2 separate regions of the Homo sapiens genome follow, and region 1 is linked to region 2. The links come from fine-mapping of genetic effects on gene expression. A gene starts in region 2. The other region holds a variant in brackets. All regions are shown on one strand. Distances are between the middles of the regions. Region 1 has its middle 6.9 kb from the start of LINC02332. Region 2 holds the start of MMP14 (matrix metallopeptidase 14).

Evidence for each region. PIP is the estimated chance that this variant, and not a neighbour inherited with it, causes the effect. A credible set is the group of variants that fine-mapping cannot tell apart.
Region 1: its variant is the best candidate, but not a certain one, in a credible set for the expression of MMP14 in iPS cells (HipSci, PIP 0.55).

Annotation. Positions count from the first base shown.
Region 1 is chr14:22,547,454-22,552,817 of GRCh38, reverse strand. It overlaps TRA and TRAC. Among named protein-coding and RNA genes, the nearest start is that of LINC02332, 6.9 kb to the left of the region's middle. RefSeq lists enhancers at 1,932-1,981, 2,072-2,231, 2,242-2,321, 2,412-2,551. The variant A/G (reference allele first, on the strand shown) is at 2,598.
Region 2 is chr14:22,834,422-22,839,785 of GRCh38, reverse strand. It overlaps MMP14 (matrix metallopeptidase 14), which reads right to left and starts at 3,201. Exons shown (of 10, transcript NM_004995.4): 1 at 2,861-3,201. The coding sequence starts at 2,968. MRPL52 (mitochondrial ribosomal protein L52) reads right to left here. Exons shown (of 5, transcript NM_180982.3): 5 at 4,749-5,364. RefSeq lists a silencer at 3,327-3,543.

The DNA.
Region 1 (5,364 bases), 290 kb after region 2:
TCTTTTCTCTTAGGTGAGAGCTCGAGGCCTCTACTCTCCTCGGTCAAATCTCTGGGCTTGTGGGGAGACAGCTCATCTCCTTTTTTCCTCATTCTCACATCCGGGATGGTGGGAACATAAAGTCCTGCTGGGGTCACAGCTTCCTCTCAACCTTGCTCCTGGTGTCAGCTTGGGCACCTCAAAGGGCTGGCGTGGGGCTGGATCAGGCAGCAGAGTGGTGGGTGGTCCCCAGCCACGAATTTGTGAGACAATGCACAGTTTCAGTGGAAACCCAGTCTGAGAGGAGAGGCAAAGGAAATGCTCCTGGAGGGCAGGAGACAGTGGGTGGCATTTTGGGGACACTTGCTGTGTGGTCCCTGTCTGCCGCAGGTCACTGCCACCCATGTGTGTGGGCTCCTGTTATGGGTGGTCCCGTGGCGTGGCATGAGAGTGGGAGAGGAGGGGTCCAAGCTGGTAGGTGGGTTTTCCTGGCCCTCAGCATAGCCTGCTAAGCGGAAGCTTTTAGAGGTTATTCCAAGAAGAGGTTGACTTAGGCAGCTTGTTGAATGAGGCTTCCTGGACAGCATCATAGACAAATGCCTTGGTTTTTCTCTGCCCAGCTAGTGATCACCAGCAAGCAGAAAATGACTCCTACCAAACCCAGTCAAACAGAGGCACAGTCTCTGCTCTTCCAAATCATTTTAATGAAGGCATCGGCAGCAGGACATACAACACGCCCAGATACACAGCATAGCAGGGCCTCGATAATGAGATAATTTCCCCCCACGTCTTGAGAAGAAGAATACTATGTATTTCTTTATGAACACTATTAAAAAAAAATAAACCCCTCACAACATTCTGCAGGACCTAGAGCCCAAGAGAACCCACTGAAGATCCATCATCTGTGGGATGGCGGAGGCAGTCTCTGGGGAGCAGGAGGGAATGTGCACAGCCAGGGGAGGCTGCAGCAGCCTTGCCTCTGCCGTGAATGTCAGGCAGTGACAAGCAGCAATAAGGGAACAGAGGGGGTGGCAGCAGTGTTTGGCAGCTCTTCAGCAATCTTAATCATAAATTCGGGTAGGATCCAGTTGGTGGCATTGCCGGGGGGGCACAGAGGTGGTAGCAGCTTTCACCTCCTTGGGGGTAGGAGAGTTCCCTCTGTTTGGAGAGGGAGAAGAGGGGCAATGCAGAGGAAGGAGCGAGGGAGCACAGGCTGTCTTACAATCTTGCAGATCTGGAATGAGGAAGAACAGAAGTCAGGCTGGACACTGAGGAAGACCCAGGACTGTTAGGGATGTGATGGTGATGGCTCTGTTTGGGGCTATGTGGTAGAGTTCTAGGAGCAAATGTACCCTGGAGTTCTTATTTTTTTTATTATTTGAGACAGGATCTTGCTTTGTCTTCCAGGCTGGAGTGCAGTGACGCAATCACAGCTCATTGTAGCCTCAACATTCCAGGGCTCAAGCGATCCTCCCATCTCAGCCTCTTAAGTAGCTGGGACTACAGGTGTGCAGCACCACACCTGGTTAATTTTTTCACTTTTTGTAGAGGCGGGGTCTCCCTGTGTTGCCCAGGCTGGTCTCCAGCTCCTGTGCTCCTCCTGCCTCTGCCTCCCAAAGTGCTGGGATTACAGGTGTGAGCCCCCGCACCCAGCCTGGAGTTTTTTTTTGATGGTGATGGAACAGGATGCAGTTGTCAGCAAGACGACTGGGGACCCTGGGGGAGGAGGGTGCGGAGACTCTAGCCAGGATTGGGGTGTAATATGAGTGTAATGTCTTCTTTCTACTGAGCTAAGAGAGCCGTACTGGGGAGAGAGGACATGAGGAGGTTACACGGTGAGAGAAGTACAACACAAGGCATGTGGTGTACACAAGTGTCTCTCTTCCTCCACTCATTAGCTGTGGGGCCTCAGTTTCTTCGTTTCTAAACAACTGTTCTTCCTACCTCATAGGGGAGAAGTGCAACTGAGGCGGCTGAAATGAGGATATTTTACAGCGTTTCAGGCCATTATTATTGCACAAGAGGAATTTGTAACAGGAAGAAGTAGGAGAGTTTGGTGGGCTCAGGCTTTGGACTTAAAAGCAAGACCCTGCAGGGAGGTTTGCTCTCAGAGCTTAGGATGCACCCAGAGACCCGCGTCCCTAAACCCCACTCCCAGCTTCAAGGCCCCTCACCTCAGCTGGACCACAGCCGCAGCGTCATGAGCAGATTAAACCCGGCCACTTTCAGGAGGAGGATTCGGAACCCAATCACTGACAGGTTTTGAAAGTTTAGGTTCGTATCTGTAAAACCAAGAGGCCACAGCGGTTATGGGCTTGCATGTCCCAGGCCTGCATGGCCTGCAGGACACACCCACGGTTTTCCCCAAGGCAGAGCAGGCTGGGTGGGGGAGGCCTGCAGCTCCTGCACCTCCTGTCCCTTGCAGCTTCTGTGCATATCCCCTTACAAACAGATTCTGTGCATTCTTCCAGGGCCAACAGTATTGTGTTTCAAGACAGGAAACACCGACTAGACTTGGCTCTTATTTTATTTCTGAGCCCTTCTGGGGATGGGGTAGGTGCTCAGAATTTATCATCACAATACCTCGGGTCCAGATGGGCCCCTTAGTGAGTTCCGCT[A/G]CCACAGGAAGGATGACTCAATAAGAACAACTCAAATGGAAATGAATATGGGCCCAGGGTGGGTGTGAGGAGTGGCAGGGGATTCTTGAGAGACAGGACCATTGCCCACAGCCTATGTGAGTACTGTTGCTTGTCTTGAAAGAAGGCAAAACCTCTTGGCTGTCCTCAGGATGATCTGGTTCGTTTAGGGCTATCCCTAAGGGACTCAGAAATTTCACAGCTGGGCCACCCAGAAGCTCTCTCTGGCTCTCTTGACAGTGGAGCTGTTGAAAGGAATACAGAGGCCTAGGAGAGAGTCCTTGGTCTATTGAAGCTAGAAACTCATCCTCAAAGTGCTTAGAATGGAAAGTCAGAGATGGTGAGAGGGATTCAGGAGAGACCCCACCCAGCTCTGGGCAGGTCTTGAACCGCTGTTTCCATTCCTCATCATTCATTCCCACATCTACTAATTTCTTCCCACTCCCTCATCCAGGCAGGGTTATTGCGGGTTCATCACTTCCGCAATCCTGTGCAAACCCAGGCTAGACCCCTGTCTTACCTGTTTCAAAGCTTTTCTCGACCAGCTTGACATCACAGGAACTTTCTAAAAGGAAAAACAGACATTCTTTCAGCATCCAGAGCAGGCTGACTCTCCCACCCCAGACCTCCTAGTTCTTGGGCAGGTGAACAACTACAGCCTTTCCATGCCTCCTTGTGGAGAGATCTGGAGGGAACTTACAGCATATGAGCACCTGCTAGGGAGAGCCCCTGGCCCTGGCAGGACCGATACCTCGGCTCCTGGACACCATTTCTATTTACTCAATATACACTGTTTGTACAAAGTACATGTTGCATGACCCTGGCCACATGTGCCATCACACATAGACCCTGCTCTTGCCTGGCTTCATTCTAGAGTCCAATGGAGGCAGCGAGGCATACATAGTGACAAGGGCCATAAAGAGTATAAACACGTACTTTCATATGTTCCAAAAAGTTTTGATCCCTGCACCCCAAATTTTTTCCTTGGTTTCTTCTTAGTAAACGGCACTATCATTGACTCAGCTGCTCAGGCCAAAATCCAGCTGCCTTCCTTGATCCCCTCTTTGCTTTCTCATCCCTGCATGGTTCTACCTTTGAAACCTGAATGGTGTTGGTTACCTCCCTGCCACCACCCTGCCCAGGCCTCCATCATCTCTCTGCTGCAACTGCTCCCTTTCTGCTTCTACTCTTGGCTTACAACCCACTCTCCGTACAGCACTCAGATTGATCTTTAAGAAAAGCAGGCCGGGTGTGGTGGCTCACGCCTGTAATCCCAGCACTTTGGGAGGCTGAAGCGGGTGGATCACCTGAGGTCAGGAGTTCGAGACCAGCCTGGCCAACATAGTGAAACCCTGTCTCTACTAAAAATACAAAAAATTAGCCAGGCATGGTGGCGGGTGCCTGTAATCTCAGCTACTCGGGAGGCTGAGGCAGGAGAATCACTTGAACCTGGGAGGCGGAGGTTGCAGTGAGCCAAGATGCACCATTGCACTCCAGCCTGGGCAACAAGAGCAAAACTCCATCTCAAAAAAAAAAAAAAAAAAAAAAAAAAAAAAGAAAAGCAAATTAGGTGTCCCTCCCCTGCTTGAAGCCGATCAACAGCTTTCTGGCGTCCTTAGAATACTGTCTACCCTCTCATGGCCTAGAAGGCCCTGTGACCCGGCCCTGCCTCCTTCATTCAACTCATGCCTGCTGCTCTTCTCCTTTCTCATTGAGCTCCTGTCCCAGGCCTCTATAGGGTCCTCTCCCTGCCCTTGGTAGGGCTGGTATCTTCAAGTAGCATTTCTTCAGAGAGCCCTTCCCTGACTTTTGTCCTGAAGGTAGCTGTTTTCTCAACCCTGAGTTAAAACACATTCCAATCTGAAGTTATTTGGACTTTTCCCAGCTGACAGATGGGCTCCCCCAACTAGAATGGTGCTTCCTCTGGGCACACCCCTCATCTGACTTTTTAATTCCTCCACTTCAACACCTGGTGCATTCATGTGCCGGCACAATCAGTGATTGGTGGGTTAATGAGTGACTGCGTGAGACTGACTTAGTGAGCTGGGAAAGATTTTTTGGCAGACAGGGAGAAATAAGGAGAGGCAACTTGGAGAAGGGGCTTAGAATGAGGCCTAGAAGAGCAGTAAGGGGCAAACAGTCTGAGCAAAGGCAGGCAGGCAGGAACTCAGTTGGAGAGACTGAGGCTGGGCCACGTGCCCTCTCCTGCCACCTTCTCTTCATCTGCTTTTTTCCCGTGTCATTCTCTGGACTGCCAGAACAAGGCTCACTGTTTCTTAGTAAAAAGAGGGTTTTGGTGGCAATGGATAAGGCCGAGACCACCAATCAGAGGAGTTTTAGACATCATTGACCAGAGCTCTGGGCAGAACCTGGCCATTCCTGAAGCAAGGAAACAGCCTGCGAAGGCACCAAAGCTGCCCTTACCTGGGCTGGGGAAGAAGGTGTCTTCTGGAATAATGCTGTTGTTGAAGGCGTTTGCACATGCAAAGTCAGATTTGTTGCTCCAGGCCACAGCACTGTTGCTCTTGAAGTCCATAGACCTCATGTCTAGCACAGTTTTGTCTGTGATATACACATCAGAATCCTTACTTTGTGACACATTTGTTTGAGAATCAAAATCGGTGAATAGGCAGACAGACTTGTCACTGGATTTAGAGTCTCTCAGCTGGTACACGGCAGGGTCAGGGTTCTGGATATCTGTGGGACAAGAGGATCAGGGTTAGGACATGATCTCATTTCCCTCTTTGCC
Region 2 (5,364 bases):
GGGTGCTGTATCTCCTAGCCAAGGTCATCAGGATTGGATTGCCACATGGTCCTTCACCTCTGGGCTCAGGTCCTGGTGATGGGGCAGTAGTCTTGCATGGGGACTGGGGGTGACTCAAGAGCAGCTGACTGGGGACCTGAGCCCACAGGGGCAAGAATTGCAACATGGTTCTGGGAAGTGATCCCCCCCCAAGGCTGATGCGAGCTAGAACCCGAGATGTAAACAACCCAGCCTTTTCCCAGCCAACAGTCTTGGCTAGAACAACCCTAGCACCACCTAGCTCTGAGGCTCTGAGAGCCCCTCCTCAGGGGTAGAGGAAGGAGTGACATTTAACCTTTGGTATACCAGAGGGAGCCAAGCAGTCCACACCAGTCCGGGGCTGCTCTCAGGGAGCTGCAGGCTTGCCCTGACCTGTTCTGGCTGATGCCACAGCCAGTGCCTGGGGAGGCCTGCTGTGGCCTGTGCCTAACTATGCAGGAAATGTCTTTTGCCCCTAGCATACCTGCAGGATAAACACACCCCGGGCTTATGACCCTTGGTTGAGGAGCAGCTGCTTCAGGACTTGGGGAAGGATGGGACTGGTCTACTGACGCTGGAAGGCAGGAGGACTGAGGCCAGGCCCCGTCAACCCTCAGAGAGCAAAGCTGAGAGAATTTGCCTAGAGCAGAACGACAGAAGGAAGATGGGGAGAAGACAGAACGACAGAAGGAAGACGGGACAGAAGAGATGGGGAGAATCCACATCCAGGAGCTCTGGGGGAAATCCCCTCTGGAGTCGTTCAAGAAGCTAGGGGGGTCTAAATATTCACACCTACAACCTCCACCCCATACCCTCGGGAGAAAAATGAAGGCTCAGTCAAATGAAGGACTTCCCTGGAGTCAAGAGAGCCGCAAGGCCTGGAAAGGAAGTGCCCCCATCCCTCTCCTCCCCCCAGGCCTAGGCAAGTTTCTCTCCTCACAGAGACTATGAGGTCGAAACCACAGAAGAGAGGACTCTTGTGTCTGCGGCTGGGTGGGAGGAAGGGCCCAGCGCCAGACAGGCCATGGGGAGGAGAGGGCTGTCCTGGAGCTGGTGCAGGACTCTGGAGGCCTGGTAGGAGGGACCCAGCTGCATGAGGCCTGCACCACCCCAGCTTTCCCTCCACATTGGCCTGGAGAAAAAAGCAACTATGTTGGGTCAAAGAACCCAGTCGGCTGGCTTTGTCTTTGCGAATGAGAGAGATGCAAGGTATCCCCTAGGAGAAAGTCAACGGAACACCTCCCACCTTGGCTTAGGGGTCCAGGGGAGGGTGGGGGGACCTCCAGCTCTGCAGTAGGCCCTGGATCCTAGCCTCTGGGGCTGCTCCTCCCTCCCTTCCTGGGCCCAGAAGCAAATGGTGGTTCTGGCACTGGGACCGCCCATGACCCAATTAAAACGGAGCCAGGGCAGCCGCCCCTCCCCTGGGGGACCCAGCAAAGCAGGGGAGGGAAAAAAGGTAAGGCAGTGAAGTTGGCGGTCGGCAGCTCCCCAGATGCTCAGGCTCGTTTTGTTAGGGGCGCTCCCTTTCAGGTCTCAGAGGACTCTAGGCCTGGGAAGAGGACGACTCCTCCCGGACAGTCAGGCTCAGCCTCCAGCACCAGGGCAGGTTTTTACTCTCCCTGGTCTCTGAGCACTCCACGTTTCGTCTTCCACCCCGATTCCTGGGGCCATACTTTTCCAGTCGGCCCCAGACCCTTTCAGGGACGCAGAGAGAAGACAGTATTCTTTCCAAAGAGTTTTCTCCGGGGTGGGACCAAGGAGGAGAAGCCAAACCCATATCCCATCCCCCTTCTAGGGCCCTTCCTGGCCCCTCCCAACCGCACCCAGGCCCTTGCCAGGCTGAGTGGGTTGAGATGGCCCAAAATAAGAAGCTCATTAAATCCGTCTCCCACCTTCACCCCAAAATAAGAGAGAGAGAGGAAAAACCTCCTCAGACAACTCCCACGCAGCTTCCTCTGGGGCCCGGTGGGCCACCGTCTGGGCCGGGGTGAGGGTGGGGGGCGCCCGAGCCAGCCCCGACGTGAGGGCACCCCGGACCAGACCCTCTCCCCATTCCCCAAGCGACGCCCCCAGGCTCCCTGCAATTAACACAGAAAAACTATTAACAACAAAAAGGGCCTGAAGGCGCCGACGCGGGTGGGGATAGGGGGAGGCAGCGACCCGGCCGATCGCCCGGCTCACAAGGAGAGCTTTGTGTGTACGGAAACGCGGCCAGCGCGCCGGCGCTGCGACCCTCGACGCCAGGGATGCGGGTAGGGACACAGCGGGGTCCTCTCGGGGAGACGGGGGCTGTGGCCCTGGACGCTCGGCCGTCCACCCTCGACCCCCACCTGGCCGCAGACTCGTCCGCTGAAGGCCTGGGCCACCCGGGGAGGCCGAAGCGCCCATCGGAGGGCGCGCCGGCGGGAGAGCGCTGGAGAGCTGGGAAGTCGAAGAAACAACAAACTCTCGCGCATGACGAGGAGCCGGGACAGCGCGGGGTTTGAGCGGAGTCCAAATGTTTATCAGGCGGTTCCAGAGCTGAGAGCAGAGCCCAAGGGAATCGGGGAAGGGGGAGTTCGCCCCAGTTGTAAAGTTCTTCCAAGGACTGGGAAAAAAGAAGGAATGGGAAGGAGAGTCGGCGGCGCAGGGGGTGGGGGCAGCTGGTTGGAAGCGGGCAAAAGTTGGATCGATCTGGAAGTTTGGAGACGAAGAGGAAAAAGAAAGGGAGGGGGAATCCTGCAGGCCTGAGCAGCGGAGATCCCAAAAGCCCTCCTCTCCGAATAGAGGCTGTCCCCTAGGAGACCCCCGGGCTCGCCTCCCGGCGGGCGCGACTCCGGGAAGGGCCGGGAAGCTCACTTACTTCGGGGCTGAAGCTGCTGCTTTGGGCCGAGCCGAGGGAGGCGAGCGCGGTGCCGAGCGTGAGCAGGGGGAGCAGGAGACAACGGGGGGGTCTTGGGGCGGGAGACATGGTCCGAGACCACCGGGTCAGCCGGGCAGTGTGGGCTCCGCGGCCGGGCCCACGCCCTGGGGTCGCACCGCCACTCCCTCGGGGCGCCTTTGTCTTCGGTAGGCACTGAACTTGAATTCCTAGACCGCTGTCGGCTTGGAGTTAAAGGGGATTGTTCCTCAAAGTGCCTGTTTGCTCTTCTCCTCTTTTCCGGTTTTTGATCTTTCTTCTGCTTAGTCGGCGAACTGGGGTCTGGTTCCCTCTCTCGCTCTCTCCTCTGGTCCCTCCCTTCTCCCACAGCCTCTCCTCCGTCCCCGCCCCAGTGCCCTCCTTTCCTGGTTGGGGACGTGGTTGTTTTAGCCTGAATCCAATTACAACCAAGAACTGGAAGGAAAAAAAAAAAAAACACCTCTAAGTTGCCTTTTTGTGGTGCAGGCTGCCATCTGCAGGGGTTGAGGCCGCGATGGACAGCAGGGGGCTGTAGGGGGATCCAGGGGACGGGATGTGGGAGACTTTGTCCCTATAAGCATATTCTGAGTGGCTTGATTCCTCTGGTATTCAGCATTTGTCTCACCTCAGGGTGGGAATTATTGGGGGCTATGTGGCTAGGGGCAACGAGGAGCTCAGAGTGTGGGATGGTGGTGGGGTCTTCTTCCATGCCCATGAGACCTGCAGAGGGAGAAGGGGCCAGTTTACTAATAGGGGGTTATCTTCTGGGCCCTGTAGACAACTGTCTATGTCCCTCCCTCTGCTGCTAAAAAATCCAAACTATAACCCAACTACCAACAACAAACCCCACAACCATACCGGATCTGTGGCTCCAACCTTTGTAGAAAGACAAAGGTGATTCCTTTATTGTCATTTGTAATGTGGCTGCACCTTTAATTGGAACTCGCTGGGAGGAAAAGGGTACAAGGCCGTGGGATCTGGGGGAAAGCAAATCAAGTTGGGTGAAATTATTGTAAAAGAAGGGATTGGGAGTTGGGACTCTGGGGTTTAGTTCCACCTCTACACTGAAAAAGGAGGCAATTCTTAAAGAGTTATAATCTCCTTTAGGGACTTACTGGACTCAGAACAAAAGGTGGAGGTATGTAGGGAAGGGAGAGGGCAGGATAAAGCTGACCGTGAGAAAGGGAGACAGATGAGTTGGGAACTAGACAGGTCTGGAAAAGAAGCACAACAGAAGCAGGAAAAGTGTGGGAGACAGAAAACTAGACTATCAGCGAAATCTAAGATCCAAGAATTGCATTTGGCCAGTGAGAGAGGACAGAGGTAGTGCGAGGAGGAAGGGAGAAGAAAGCAAAGGAAGGAATAGAGGAGGGTGGACAGAAATTAGGTCAGGTAGGAAGCTCCAGAAATCCTAGGGATGCACTTCTGTGGCAGAAGAATAGAAGTCTAGTGCTCAGTATTGTAATGAAAACAAAGGTCTTTTGCCCTCAGATTCATGATCAATAAAATGAAAAGCTTTTCAGGTCCTGTGGAGCCTCCAGGTTTGTGGGAGGTATATGGTGTGTGTTATTAAACAGCTACCTACCCCACAGTGACTGAGGGCTGAGCCCTTATGTAGGGCTTTCCTACACAAGCTGGGGTTGGGAGGTACAGGCCCCTCTTCAACCAATCTCTGGAATGCATTCAGAACCATGGAGACCTCAGGACCCCACTCTCGGCAGAACACGCAACACCCAGGTATGATTCTTCCCACATCAGCCTTCCCAGTGGGGGTAACCTCCTGGACCACATATCTGAATCTTAGGAAGACTGACACCAGATGCTTGCCAAAAAAGGGACCTTGGCTAGAAAATCTTTTTCATGAAAACATTTATTAGATGCCAGCTGTACATGGCCTAAACTGTGCATGAGCTGTTAAAGGCTTGACTGCCTGGCCAAAACTGGGAAAACTGCTGTCCCCTTTTCACGTTCACAGAACAGCTATTTCTCATAGTTGGGCTAGTCCTATGGCCTGCAAAGGAGGTAAATTTTTTTTTTTTTTTGAGACGGAGTCTCGCCCTGTCGCCCAGGTTGGAGTGCAATGGTGTGACCTTGGCTCACTGCAACCTCTACCTCCCGAGTTTAAGCGATTCTCCTGCCTCAGCCTCCTGAGTAGCTGGGATTACAAGCGCACCCCACCACGCCCGGCTAATTGTTTGTATCTTTAGTAGGGACAGGGTTTCACCATGTTGACCAGGCTGGGTTGGCCAGGCTGGTCTCGAACTCCTGATCTTGTGATCTGCCCGCCTCAGCCTCCCAAAGTGCTGGGATTACAGGCGTGAGCCACCGCACCCAGCTAGGAGGTAAAAATTTTAAAGCAAGACTTAGCTGAACTGGAATGGAACCAGAGATGAGAGTACTAAGCCAAGCCTCCCAGGCAGTGATCTAACAGCTTGTTCTTGGTGTCCCAGCTCTTTTTCTCTGAAGAC